Homo sapiens: one gene and its partner. The protein of the gene in region 1 purifies or fractionates together with the protein of each later gene. This does not show direct contact. Each region holds a gene or a part of one and is shown on either strand. Other genes may lie near its edges.

The links. Proteins that work in one complex are often made in the same cells at the same time.
Region 2: the proteins of ATG10 (region 1) and ATG7 purify together in Homo sapiens (affinity purification with mass spectrometry; 4 studies listed by BioGRID and IntAct, with this or other methods). This does not show direct contact.

Annotation. Positions count from the first base shown.
Region 1 is NC_000005.10:82,248,010-82,255,042, reverse strand, and holds part of ATG10 (ubiquitin-like-conjugating enzyme ATG10), read right to left. Parts: intron 2,482-7,033; coding exon 2,384-2,481; intron 1,730-2,383; coding exon 1,618-1,729; 3' UTR 1,614-1,617; intron 976-1,613; 3' UTR 1-975. UniProt on the Homo sapiens protein: E2-like enzyme involved in autophagy. Acts as an E2-like enzyme that catalyzes the conjugation of ATG12 to ATG5. ATG12 conjugation to ATG5 is required for autophagy. Likely serves as an ATG5-recognition molecule. Not involved in ATG12 conjugation to ATG3.
Region 2 is NC_000003.12:11,359,380-11,366,412, reverse strand, and holds part of ATG7 (ubiquitin-like modifier-activating enzyme ATG7), read right to left. Parts: intron 5,833-7,033; coding exon 5,629-5,832; intron 3,601-5,628; coding exon 3,485-3,600; intron 1,755-3,484; coding exon 1,679-1,754; intron 1-1,678. UniProt on the Homo sapiens protein: E1-like activating enzyme involved in the 2 ubiquitin-like systems required for cytoplasm to vacuole transport (Cvt) and autophagy.

The DNA of each region.
Region 1 (7,033 bases):
TATAGCTTTTTAGAAAACTTCTAATTACTATGCCACACTTTGCTGGTAAAACATATTATCTCACAGTAAAATATTGTGTTTTTTCTTTGTTTTACAACTATCTACACAAACACCCACACATACACACACACACACACACACACTCACACTCACTCTCTCTCTCTCTTTTGGAGTAAAACAGAAATAATCTATTGTTCCTGAGTTTGATTGTGGGAAAATCACTTAAGATAGGTCATGTTTATAACACCAGTTTCAGGGACAGGTAAATCCAGTAATTTAATTTTTATATATCTTACATTAAAATGAACACACAAATACATTTCTCCCTCAATCTCCATGTCAGACAAATGGAAGTGAAGTACTTGGCCTAGAAAAGAATAACCTGCAAGTGCCCTAATAATGTTGGTATTCCTAGTATTAATAAGTTAGATTTGTTTTTTTGCTATTTATAGTGATGTGTCTTTTTTTTTTTTTTTTTTTCCCCGAGACAGTGTCTGGCTCTGTCACCCAGGCTGGACTGCAGTGGCACAGTCTCAGCTCACTGCAACCTCTGCCTCCTGGGTTAAAGCCAACCTCCCACCTCAGCCTCCTGGGGAGCTGGGACTACAGGAACACACCACCATAAACAGGCAAATTTTTGTATTTTTTTGTACCGACAGGGTTTCACCATGTTGCCCAGGCTGGTCTCGAACTCCCAGGATCAAGTGATGCTCCCACCTTGGCCTCCCAAAGTGCTTGGATTACAGGTGTGAGCCACCATGCCTGGCCATGATGTATCCCTTTGAAGTGTTTCTTCTAAACATTCAGCCTATCAAACACCAGTTGCTGTAGACATTTGTGTCCAAGGGAAAAATAATCCATGTCACATCTTGGTGAGATGAAATATTCCATGGTATCAGTCCTATTAAAGCCAGGGCTGGCCAGGTAAACTCTTGGCATTCTTCGTGCCGCAATTCCTAAACTCAATAGAAGAATCTGAAGAACATAAAACAAAAGCCAAGAGAATAAAAGAAAAATAACTGAGCAGTAAAGACTTATTTAAGAATATCAGTACTAAAATAAAACTATCCATTCCTGTCACTGAGTGCATGCTACTTACAGCAAAGTAAAATATTTCCTGAATTGGTGGCCCCCAACCTTTTTGGCACCAGGCACCAGTTTCAGGGAAAACCATTTTCACAGACCGAATGGGAGATGGTTTCAGGATGAAACTGTTCCACCTCAGATCATCAGGCATTGGTTAGAATCTCATAAGGAGCGCGCAACCTAGGTCCCTCAGATGCGCAGTTCACAATAGGGTTCACATTCCTATGCAGATCCAATGCTGCAGCTGATCTGATAGGAGGAAGAGCTCAGGTGGTAATGCTCGCTTGCTTGCCCACCCAGCTGCCGCTCACCTCCTGCTGTGAGGCCTGGTTCCGGTCCATGGCCTGGGATTTGGGGATCCCTGTCCTAAATAACTTGGTAGGGGACTGATTGGAAAACTAAAAATTAAGTCAGGGTTTGCCCACTAAAGATGAAAGCAAATTTTGCATTTGGTGGGATGAGTCTAAATGCAATGGAGACATTGATCTTTGTAACGGCAAAACATTAAATCCAGGCTTTTCTTTTACCTTGTTAAGGGACATTTCGTTCATCCTGAGACGTTGCTTTGGCATAACTCAGAGGTAGATTCAGCCCAACAACTGGCCCTACAATGCTCAGCCATGATGTGATATAGTTGACATTCCTAGGAAACAAGTGAAATACAGGCCATGCTAACGTTTCCATTGTAGTTTTTGGATGAATGGTAGAACATCAGTTGGTCACCAACAATAACAAAAGTGAGGCTTTCTTCAAAGATTTGTACCTACCACCTGGAATCTCAGCATTTCTGAATGCCAGCCCCATTGCTTGACAAGAATTTAAGGTCCAGAGAGCCTGTAAGGATCCCTCATTAGGGTAGTTGAAGAATGAGGTAAGGTACTGGCTCCTGACTTCCCTTGATGATTCAAATTTTACCCTTACAGTTTACAGCACTTACTAAGGTAGCAGAGTGCAGTGATTAAGAGCATGGTTCTGAGGCCAAAATGCTTAGATTCAAATCCCACCACTTAACTAGCTGTGTGACCTTGTTTGAGTGGCTTAACTCCTCTGTTCTGTAACTTCCTCCTCTGTAAATTGGGCAAAATAATAGTACTTAGCACATAGGAATGCTGCAAAAATCCAATGTCTTACTGTATCTAAAACTCTTAGAACAGCATCTAGCATATCCTAAAAATCATTGTGTTAGCCATTATTATTATTAATATTTCTTTTTTAGCCTAGCATTTAGAGTCACATAAAAAGATTTACACTTTTAAAATCAGAGTAGAAGCCAATGTATCTTGATGGTGTTTCTTACTTATTGATTTTCTGAGAATTCTTTAATACAGGAGTCATGAATTCATTCGTCTTGCAGGGATGAAGTACAAAAAAGGGTTGCCCAAGTATTGGATGTTCCTGTAAGAATCAGAATTGGTCCAGGATCAGTGTGAGTTACTTTGAAAAGGCTAAAATAATTTATCTGGTTTACTCCTTTAAAATAAAGGTTTGTCTCAAATTCCAAGTTATTGAATTAATATACAGGTTTATTTTCTATTTTTAAAAACAATTTATAATCCAAACATCAGAAGAAGTTGGTGAGAAAGGACTATTCATTGATAAAGCAGTATGGTCGAGTATAGCAGGGCACCCATTTTTGTTTACACAATATAAACTGTAGTTGCATTTTATCAGTTCCCTCTCTGTTGGCCAGTGTTTCTCTTTGGCCTATCATTATTCTTCAGTTTTTCTTCAAGGATGTTCACAAAGCTCAGTAGTTTGACAACCTAAACAATTCATTTTATTCACCTCTTTGTCAATGGTAAGAGACTCAAAATCATTTGCATATTTCTTTACACAAATTTTGTCAACATGTTGTTTCAAGCCTACATGTATCCAGTGCCAGTGGGCACATGTTCCACGAGTAGAACCAGGGATGGGAGGAGATGGCCTGCACTATTTAAATTGTTCTACTTCTGTTTGTCTCTCTCTCTCTTTCCGTCTCTGAGTTTTTGTTTTTCTTTTTCCTCATTTCTCTCCTTCTGTCTCTCCCAAGCCTACAGGGCTGTTTTTATAAGTTAAAAGCCTGAAATGTAACTCTGTTTCTTTTATAAGGTAGTAATTGGATATAAGATATAGGTCAGACCATACCCAAGTTAGGGACGTGGACATCATTTGGCAAGCAATGGGGAGCCCTAGGAGGTTTCTATGTAGTGGGTAATCTGTGCACAAGTTCTACCAACAAAAACACTATTATTGATGATACATTTATTGATTATTTGTATTGTGGATTAACCATTATACCAACACTGCAAACTCAAATACCTATGAAGACAAAGCAGGTGACCTAAGGGGATAATGCCAGCTAAATACACCAGCAGATGACGGGGCCCGTGAGAAACTGCCGAGTGCACCCATCCAAGGCCATGCTGGCTACTCTGCTCCAGCCAACTGTCCCATGTGGGAATGCAGGTTCAGCATGCCAGACCTCCCTATTTGTGAAACTAACCTAGAAAAGCTGAAGTTTATGTTAAACCTCCTACATTTAAGTGTTGGCATAATTTATTTTTAAACATGGAGTGGGACAAGTAAAACAGGCTTGTAGGCTGGATTTAGACTAGGGGATGCCTAGTTTCTTCTCTTGGCTTCTTCTCTCAGCCAACCCAAGGGGAAGCTGAACTCAGAGCTGTTGATGGGATGAATTATGTGGCTGTCCTTGCTGCCTCTACCCCTCAGCTCCAAACATTCATGTCTGTATGCTTATGCACATATCCACTCACAAGAACTGGAAGGGACAATTCCTCTTGTATTGGTGACACTGGGTATGGAGATTTGGGGTGGTGGTGGTGAGGGATGAGTTATCCACTAGTGATAGGTTATTGCATGTATCTGGCATTTTTAGCACCACCTGGCATTTGTTTCTCCCTGAGTGCCATCTCCAGGTGACTCTGACCAGTCGCCTGATTCTTCCAGCAAGGCATCAGCTTCCTCTCTACAGCTCTCTTCCCAACCTTCATTCCCATCCCTAACTGGGCCCTGGGCTCAAAGCCCTGATGTGTTGGGCCTATGCCAAGTCCTCCTGTCCAACTTGAATCTGGTTTCCCTTACCTGCCTTAAACTAATATTTAGCAATTCAACATATATTAATCAATCATCTTTTTTATGTGTCTGCCAGAATACTTCTAGCTATAGTTATAGAGACCACTGCATCTCTTAGATAAACAATGTTCCTGATCCCATGGAACTTAGATTTCAGTGCAGGAGACAGCCAATAAACACACAGAACGAATAAATAAGATAATCCAGATAATTATAAGCCCTACAAAGGAAACACAACAGGGTAACATGATTCTGGAGGGATTGTGGTGACATTAGACTTGGAAAGGGAAGGCCTGAAGGAAGAGGTAATACAATGGACTGAATGTGTGTATCCCTCTTAGGGTTACACCCTAAGAGGTGTAACTCTCACTCTTTTCCTATCATGTGGGGATACAGTGAGAAGATGGCATCTATGAAATAGGAAACGGGTCCTCACCAGACACTGGATCTTCCAGTGCCCTCATCCTGGATCCTGTAGCCTTCAGAACTGGGAGAAATAAGTGTTGGTTCTTGAGCCACCCAGTCTATGGTATTTTTGTTATGACAGCCTAAATGGACTAAAATAAGGTGAAACTTAATCAAAGATCAGAACGACAAGGAAAAAAACAACCATGCAGAGATTTGGGAACAGAATGTGGGGGCAGATGACCCTATGGGGGAAATGAGCATAGAAAATATGCAGGAAAAATGCAAAAAAATTTAGAATTATCCTGGACTAAAACAATGACTGTTTAGAAAGCTGGGATTTAAAAAAGATAAATGTAGTCTAAATTCTTTTGGGATGACTTACATAGTTGCCAATGGAAGGAATAAAGAGGTATAATCCAATCTTATTGATGTAAAGTACATGTTGACTTTAATGAAATGAAACCTACAGTTACAAATTTCCACTAGACGGAAACACTCCTAATAGGGAGGATCAGTTCAATCACGCAGCCTCCACTCTCTCCAAGACTCACTTTCCCTTTGGCATCTCTTTCTTATCTAAGAGGTGGATAGGCACTTACAGTTCAGGGGACCATTTTCTTAGAGGAGTCTTAGGACCATGGCACACTGCAGCTCTGCTCATTTGATGCTGCTTTGTAAAGACATGGACTTTACTTCTATAAGTCATCTTTTTTTCATTCCACATAGCAAGTGGGTAAGCACATGCATGAGCTCTATGGTTAAGACTGTTTGAGATCAAGTCCTGCTCTACCACTTGGTAGCTGTGAGCTATTGGGAAAGTCACTTAACCATTTTACGTCTCTGTTTCCTCATCTGGTAACTGTGGCTAATGATAGTATCTGTCTCAGAGATTGACTGTGACCCTTCAATGAGATAATACCACAGAAGTACATAGAACAGTACCTGACACATAGCAGACACTTAGTTGGCTATTAGTATTTAACCCATTAATATCTAAACAGAAAAGAATAACAGCCAGACATTCAGAAAGTAGTCTTATGGTACCCTATAATAAAGCCAAATTTCAATCTAAAAATAGGACGTTCCTGTAAATTAAGTAGCATATTAAAAGCATCACTGACCAGTATCTAAGTGTTTAGGAATATTTGACAACTGTTTATAAGTGAAAGGAAGAAAGGTCTGAATTAGTAAAAGGTCTAGGTCTATATGGCAACTAGAACTATCACTATATTTGTATTCAGGTTTAAAACCAAATTAATGAAAAATAATTTAAATGAATTTAAATTAAAATAAAAGTTTAGGTACTTCAAAAACACTTCAGTAATCTACAACATTTTAATATTCATTTTTCCTCAAAGAACATAAAACAGTCATATTAGCATTTAAGGTTATGTTCTAATAGAATAAAATGCATGGCAATGTCATTTAAAACACTTTTTAAAATAATTGAGACTTTCATGCCTTTGAAGAGCTTTTAGAATAGCTTAAGCATTTCTTTAATGCAGGTTTGGCCATCTTTAAAAAATTCTTTATCCTTTACTATACTGAGACCTTATATTTATATAATTAAATAGAATATATTAAAATGAATGATGGTCTTTAAAAATTAAAAGTTTAAATTTATTAATAAATTGGATTTTAAAATAAAAATTATATTGTTTTGGCAAAATGCTTTTGGTTCAAAAGAATCAAGCCTATAATATGCTGATCAGCTTAAAATAGGAATTATAAGATATGTAATCTTTTAGAAGAATTTTATAAATTAATAACAACAGAAGTGGACTTCCAGCTGTGATAGAATAAAGAGGTCAGCAAATCCTCTCCCCAGAAATTAAATATAAAAATGAACAAAATTGTCAAAAACTAACCATTTTTGGGTCCTGGAAATCAACCAAGGGCAAATATAAAATCTGAGACGTGTTTAGTTCATGATAATCTGCTAAACTTCAAGTTAGAAACAGAGGGAATCTGAAGCCTTCTTGCCTGGAAGTACTTCCATATCCCCTCCTCCTCTTCCCCAATGTCCCCAGACACTCCATCAACAGAAGTTTTACCAGAGCAATCTGGCCATAAGAGCCAATAACTGTGTAGCCAGAGGGGCTGGCCTGATTTCCAACAGATAGCTAAAACTATTGCTCAGCAGCACTGTCAATAAAAATAGCAAAATAGGTACTAAATGAAAAGAAAAAAGCTGCAGCTCTGCTAGCCAGAGGTTGCAGTCCCAGTTGAGGCAAGCAGCAAACTACCAGTAATTTAATGGGGACATTCTGGAAATAAGACAGCCACAGAAGGGGTAGATAAGTTCTCCAGGCATCACTAGCTGATGGGAAGGGGATGTTCAGTGGAGTCACAAGAAGGCCTGATAGGAAGTAAGAGCTAAGGCCAATATGAATACTACTTGAGTTTTTAGCGTGTTCCCAATCCACGTACACATCCATTGGCAAAAGAAAAAAGCATTATAGGC
Region 2 (7,033 bases), on another chromosome or scaffold:
ATGTCAAAAAAAAATGCCACCTTGTGTGTGGGGGACAGAGGGGGGCACATTTTCATAGTGTTTTGTGGTTTTCAAGGCCGTGTCAGATGTAATCCTGGACACAAAGTAAAGCACCTGCTTTTCTTGATTTGGAAACTGAGACTCTGGGAGGCTAAGTGAACTCTACAAGTTCTATTTTTTTTTTTTTTTTTTTTGAGATGGAGTCTCACTCTGTCGCCCAGGCCACAGTGCAATGGCGCGATCTTAGCTCACTGCAACCCTCCACCTCCCGGGTTCAAGCGATTCTCCTGCCTCAGCCTCCTGAGTAGCTGGGATTACAGGTGCACACTATCACGCTCAGCTAATTTTTGTATTTTTAGTAGAGACGGGGTTTCACCATGTTGGTCAGGCTGGTCTCAAACTCCTCTCCTCGTGATCCACCCGCCTCGGCCTCCCAAAGTGCTGGAATTACAGGCATGAGTCACCGCGCCCGGCCCACAAGTTCTATTATGGGTGGTTTTGTGCAAGGGGGCTGGGGTACCAACAGGAAGCAAAATCTCCCAACATGCAGGCCACGGATCTTTCAACTCACAAGACCTTTGAAAGAACATTTGTCAGACTGCCAAGTTTAGGTATGGATTGTGGCTCATCCACTAAGTCTCTGTGACCATGAAGAAGTCGTTTCCCCTCTTCTGATTCTCATCCTAAACTGAATATGACAGTGCCGCCCTAGCTGGCAGAAGGTGGGTGGCGAGGAGGAAGAGAGAGACAAGCATGAGCTGAGTCACTCTGCTCTCTGCACTCGTCTGAGTCTGTCCTTGCAAATCACCAGATAGGACTGGTGGGCACCATCACGATTTCACTGATGGGAACAGCAGTCACATTACAGGAGAGGATACATACATGGAATCTAAAAAAAAATGATTTCCAAATAAGACTGGAAAACCTCTTCAATCTCCCAAAAATATAGTAATGAAAATGACTGAAGAGGCAACATGAATTCTAAAAGATCATCCCACTGCCTTTTTCTTTTTACTCCCTAAGGGATGGAACTTCCTCATGATGCTTTGGATTCTTTTTCTGAAAAGACACCCCACTTTTTGGTGACCCTGCATGCTTCTAATGTTTTTCTCATGCCTGCCTATAAAGGTTTTCTATTTGGGTTCAGAGTCAATAATAATAACAAGCAACAGTAAAGAAACAGCAGGCATTGTTTGTTGAGGGCCTATGATATACACTGTTGCTGAGCCCTTTCTAGCAACCATCCATAATCCATACAACTACCAGGTGATGTCAGCATTACCTTCTCTATGTTACAGATAAGAAAACTAAGCCTCAGAGAAGTTTAGTGACTTGGCCAAAGAAGGCCATCTTTATAACGGCAGGGCTGGGATTTAAACCATTGTATGACTGATTCCAAAGCCTGTTTTTTCTGTTCCTATTGCATTATGAGGCCTCTAGTCAGTTTACAAAACGCATCAAAGACTCTGGGCAATGCTTCTCGTTCGTGATTTCCTCCCATCACTATCCCGCAGAATGGAATACCTTCCAGGTGGTCAGAAAGCTCTCCCATTGAAATCCCAGCTGCAGGGTAAGTAGGGTGGATATGAAGTGGGCTGGGCAGATGGAATGGCAAAGAGACCCCACATGCTTTCCCCCTGTACCAAAAGAATTGTGATTTCACTTCCACATCACTAACCTGGTGAGGCACAAGCCCAAGAGAGGTTGGAGGCTCATTCATCCGATCGTCACTGCTGCTGGCAATGGCATAGCCCCTGAGGACAGGAAACAATCAGAGCTGCTCATTTAATCCAAGTTTAACACATGGGAGGATGATCTAGCAGAAATCTACATAAGATTCATAAGGATAACTAAAATGCCCCTTGCTGGGCAGTGTAAGTTAGCAAAAAACTAATTTCCCTGGGACAAAGGGCAAGAAGAGTAATTTAAACATGCATGGTTTGGAGTCAGAAAGACCTGAGCTTGTGACCATAGGCAAGTTGCTTAACTTTTCTGTGCTTCAGATCCATCATCTATAAAGTAGGAATGAGGGAGCTCTGATTAATAAATGAGGAATCTACTACATCAACTGCCGAGTGCAATGTTCGGCATATCAGAGGCCAATAAACATTAACTCACTTACTATGAAATAGTCTTGTCAAACATCACAGCACATTTCTGTACTGAAAATTTGAAGTGGAAAATTTTCTAACCTTAACTTCTTGAGCTGATATAAATGCTAATGAAATGGAAGAAATAAAAGTGAAGAATGAATTGGGCAGAACTAATACACTACTCTCTGAACAATGGAGTGATACTTGTGGCACCAAAAAGATGTGACACAGGACCTGGTGTTTAAACTATGACCAGGGCAAATGTGGCAGACAGAGGCTCAGTGTCAAGGAAGCATAAAGTCAGCTCTCAAAGATTTTATCCCAAATACTTCCTGTCAGAGAGTGGCAATAAACTTAAATGACAGATAGCTAAGGTGGATGACAAAGAGGAAGACAAAAAAGCCCCGCTTTTCATTTATCTCAGAGTACCCATACTAGTTACATATACAACCACAATTTTCAACTGCTGAGGAAAGCTTTGAGTCACACAAGAAATAGAATATTCATGTTAATTTGCATATTGACTTTCTGAGAACTGGAAAAATAAATCTTTCAAAAATTCGATTTTCTGCTGCCTGTATTGCAAACAGCATAACAAAGTCATTAAACATAGTCTGGAGCCACACTGGTTGAGCTAAACCCTGGCTTTTCCATTTACTATGTAAATTTGGCCACTTACTTATCCTCACTATGCCTTGATTTCCCCATCAAAACTGCGACTAATAATAATAGTTCTTTCCTAATATGTTTGCTATGAAGATTAAAGGAGGCCGGGTGCAATGGCTCACGCCTGTAATCCCAACACTTTGGGAGGATAAGGTGGGTGAATCACTTCTGATCACTGAGGTCAGAGGTTCAAGACTAGCCTGACCAACATGGCAAAACCCCATCTCTACTAAAAATACAAAAATCAGCCGGGCATGGTGGCGTATGCCTGTAATTCCAGCTACTTGGGAGGCTGAGGCAGGAGAATCACTTGAACCTAGAAGGCAGAGGTTGCAGTGAGCCAAAATCGTGCCATTACACTCCAGCCTGGGCAACAAGAGCGAAATTCCGTCTCGTTAAAAAAAAAAAAAAAGATTGAAGGAGGCAAAATTTCTAAGGTGCTTAGAACAGTGCCTAGCACAAAGTAAGCCCTATATAAGCGTTGGAAAAATAAAATAAACCATAGTGACTTTGTCCGGAAAGATGCAGAAATGTGGCCACAAAGGAAACATGCCAAGTTATCTCAGCCCAAAGAACCAGACCTGCTTTTTCTAGTCTTGTTTTTTTGAGGGTGAAATAGTGAAATTCTCTGTAAAGTCAGACTGAGAAAAGGCCATGGGAGACACTGATGAACAACTGCCTACAAAAGCTTTGTTTAAATACTCATCTCCTACTAGCAAACTCACCCTTCTGGATGCTGCAAAACAGATACCATCAATTCCACGGCCAGGGCTCCTGCAATCACGGCCAGTCCTGGACGACTCACAGTGCACTGCTGGTCCAAGGTCCGGTCTCTGGTTGACTGCAAAGAAACAATCATTGGTGTGTGCAGAACGTTCTACTCCATTCAACTCTAGCTGTCTCAAGTATGAAATCCTCTGTGACAAAGCTTTAAATTATAACCAGATGCTCATTGTTGGCAAAGAACATCCAGCCTCAAGTACATCATTTCTTGAGATTATCAAGATAAACAAAATATACAATTTAGGTAACTAAATGAGGTGATATGCTAAAAAGGATCAGTAGCCTAAACAGATTGGGGGATATTAACCAAAAATGAGGGCTTAGCTGCCTCATATAATGGAACTGCATCATGTGTTCCTTTAAGTGACTCAATTCAGTTCTACTGTGCTTGGTAGTTAAGTGACAGAGACACAGAAAGGAACAATGATTTGAAAAGTGCAAATGATTCTGCCCTGCCATTTTAACTGAGCTAACACCTCAAAGTGACCGTGAGATGGGAGCAACAATTTACTATTCCTGCGGCCCTCAGTTCCTATGTGCCTCTCACAACATGGGCATCACCTCTCTGTGTGATTCTAGGGTTTACTACAAGTATTTTTTTTTTCTACAACATGGCTCTAAGCACAAGCCTTTGCTGGTTCAACCAAAGAGAGTCTAACCATCCAACTCTGGGCAAATTAAGAGGTTGTTAGAGATATTTTTGACTCTATAAAAATTTTACCTTATGAGCAGATGGGACTTTACTGCAAGGGACCACTAATCGTATTTGTTGACAATCACTAAATAACAAGACCAGCTATATATTATAACACCATAACAGAGATCATCAAGCCATCTTTCTCCATAAAAGAGAATGGTCATCTTCTTTTCTTTATATTGGGAGGGCATAAAAGCCAGTCATCCAAAAGAGATATGAGTTATTAAGGGAAAAGTTTTAAAACAAAGGAAAAATAGAGGGGAGGTTACAGAAAACATCTCTGCATTGTTTCACTGGAAATCGTTATCTGTTCTGATAAAGGAACAGACCTACATACAGACTGACTTGTGTGGAGTTCTGAAAGTCATAGAATCTTAATTTGTACAGTGTAGTCTTGCTGTTCAAAGCACTGTCGCACTTGACCCACTTTGCACTGTGAGTTGACAGGGCAGGTATTCTTCCCTCCTCTATTAGCATTGCTAGGGAGAATACAAGACACTCAGTTAAATTTGAATTTCAGATAAATAAATTTTTAGTATAAGTGGGTCTTGAATATTGCATGGGACATATACCAAAAAATTATTCATTATTGGCTAAGCGTGGTGGCTCACACCTGTAATCCCAGCACTTTGGGAGACTGAGGCAGGTGGATCACGAGGTCAGGAGTTCGAGACCAGCCAGACCAACATGGTGAAACCCCGTCTCTACTAAAAATACAAAAATTAGCTGGGCATGGTGGCACACACCTGTAATCTCAGCTACTCAGGAGGCTGAGGCAGGAGAATCACTTGAACCCAGGAGGCAGAGGTTGCAGGGAGCCGAGATTGTGCCACTGCACTCGAGCCTGGGTGACAGGGCGAAACTCTGTCTCAAAAAAAAAAAAAAAAGAATTCATTATTAACTGAAATTCAAAGTTAGCTGGGAATCCTATATTTTTACTTACTAAATCTGACAAGCCTACACATCACTCCTATTTTGCAAAGGTAGAGGGAACCTAAGAGACTTTTTAGAACTACCTGGGAGGCAGTGTCAAGCCATTGATGGAATCTGGTCTTTAGACTCCTGATTTGTAATGTTATCTTGACTAAGAGAAGCACCGGAGACAATACGGAGTGCTATCAGGGACTAGTCTGCTGTGGTTTCCTCAATAAGCTTTCCAAAAATATGGTTTGTAGCCGCGTTTATATTGGTGAACAAGGAACAGGTGTACAGTTGATGACGCCAGTCAAGGTTCATAATGAGATAATGCCATCCTCCCCAAATTGGAGAATTCTTCTCTTTGTTAAAAGATAATATTTAAATAGTCATAAATGAAAGGGCCAAGTCGGTCTGCCTCAGTGTACAAGTTGGTGATAGGAAATATTTGGAACTATAGAGAAATCCACTTACATCTCCTGGGGCCACCACATCATTGCAGAAGTAGCAGCCAAGCTTGTAACCAGGGATGTTGGCAAAAAGCGATGAGCCCAGGAGGTCAGCAGATGCCACAGGGTGGTTTGGACACAAGTCCCCAGCTCCTTGCTGCTTTGGTTTCTTCAGACCATGTCTCATGACAACAAATGTGTCAAATCCCAAAGCAGCATTGATGACCAGCTGCAGGTTTCAAGGAATGAAAGAGCAGAGTTAAAAGACACATATATTTCAAGCTGTGGCTAATTCCATATTTGCTCAACTTTTTAAAATTTATTTTTTGCATGTAAGTGTAATTAGATTATAAAAGCTAATGATGATAAAATCTACCCACTACTGAGGGCTTATTAATTACAAAAGACTTGATAAGTGATGAACATAAATTATCTCATTTAATTTCATTTGAAACTCATAACAGACCAGGTATAGTGGCTCATAACCTGTAATCCCAGCACTTTGGGAGGCCAAGGCGGGCAGACTGTCTGAGGTCAGGAGTTCGAGACCAGCCTGGCAACATGACGAAACCCTGTCTCTATTAAAAATACAAAAAATTAGCCGAGCATGATGGCTTGCGCCAGTAGTCGCAGCTACTCAGGAGGCAGAGGCATGAGAAATGCTTGAACCTGGGAGATGGAGTTTGCAGTGAGCCGAGATTCCGCCACTGCACTCCAGCCTGGGTGACAGAGCAAGATTCTATCTCTGAAAAAGAAAAAAGCAAACAAAAAAACTCATAACAAACATTTCTTATTTATAGATGAGGATACTGAAAGTCAGAGAAGTTAGTTCTATAACTTGCCCAAGGTCACTTATCTGGCAAGAGGTAGGTATATAAAACCAAGTCTACATAGTTCTCAAACACATTCTTTCCACCATTATGCTATACTGTCATGTTCACATAGATTTGTTTTTATAACAGCTTTATTGAGATATAACTCACATACCATATAATTCACCCTTCACATAGAATTTTTTTGGTATCCCAGTAGCTGGAATTACAGGCACATGCCACCATGCCTGGCTCCGCATAGTTGGTTTTTTTTTGTTTTTTTGTTTCTTTGGGGTTTTTTTGAGACAGGATCTCACTCCGTTGCCCAGGCTGGAATGCAATGGCGTGATCTCGGTTCACTGCAGCCTCAACCTCCCAGGCTCAAGTGATCTTCCTGCCTCACCCTCCTGAGTAGCTGGGAGCACGGGTGTGCATCACCACACCTAGCTAATTTTTTGTTTTTCTTCTAGAGAGAGAGTCTCACCATGTTGCCCAGGCTAGTCTCAAACTCCTGGGTCAAGCAATCCTCCCAAAGTGCTAGGATACAGATGTGAGCCACCATGTCCAGCCCAACACATAAATTTTTAAGAAACCGTTTTTTCATTATACTATAACAAC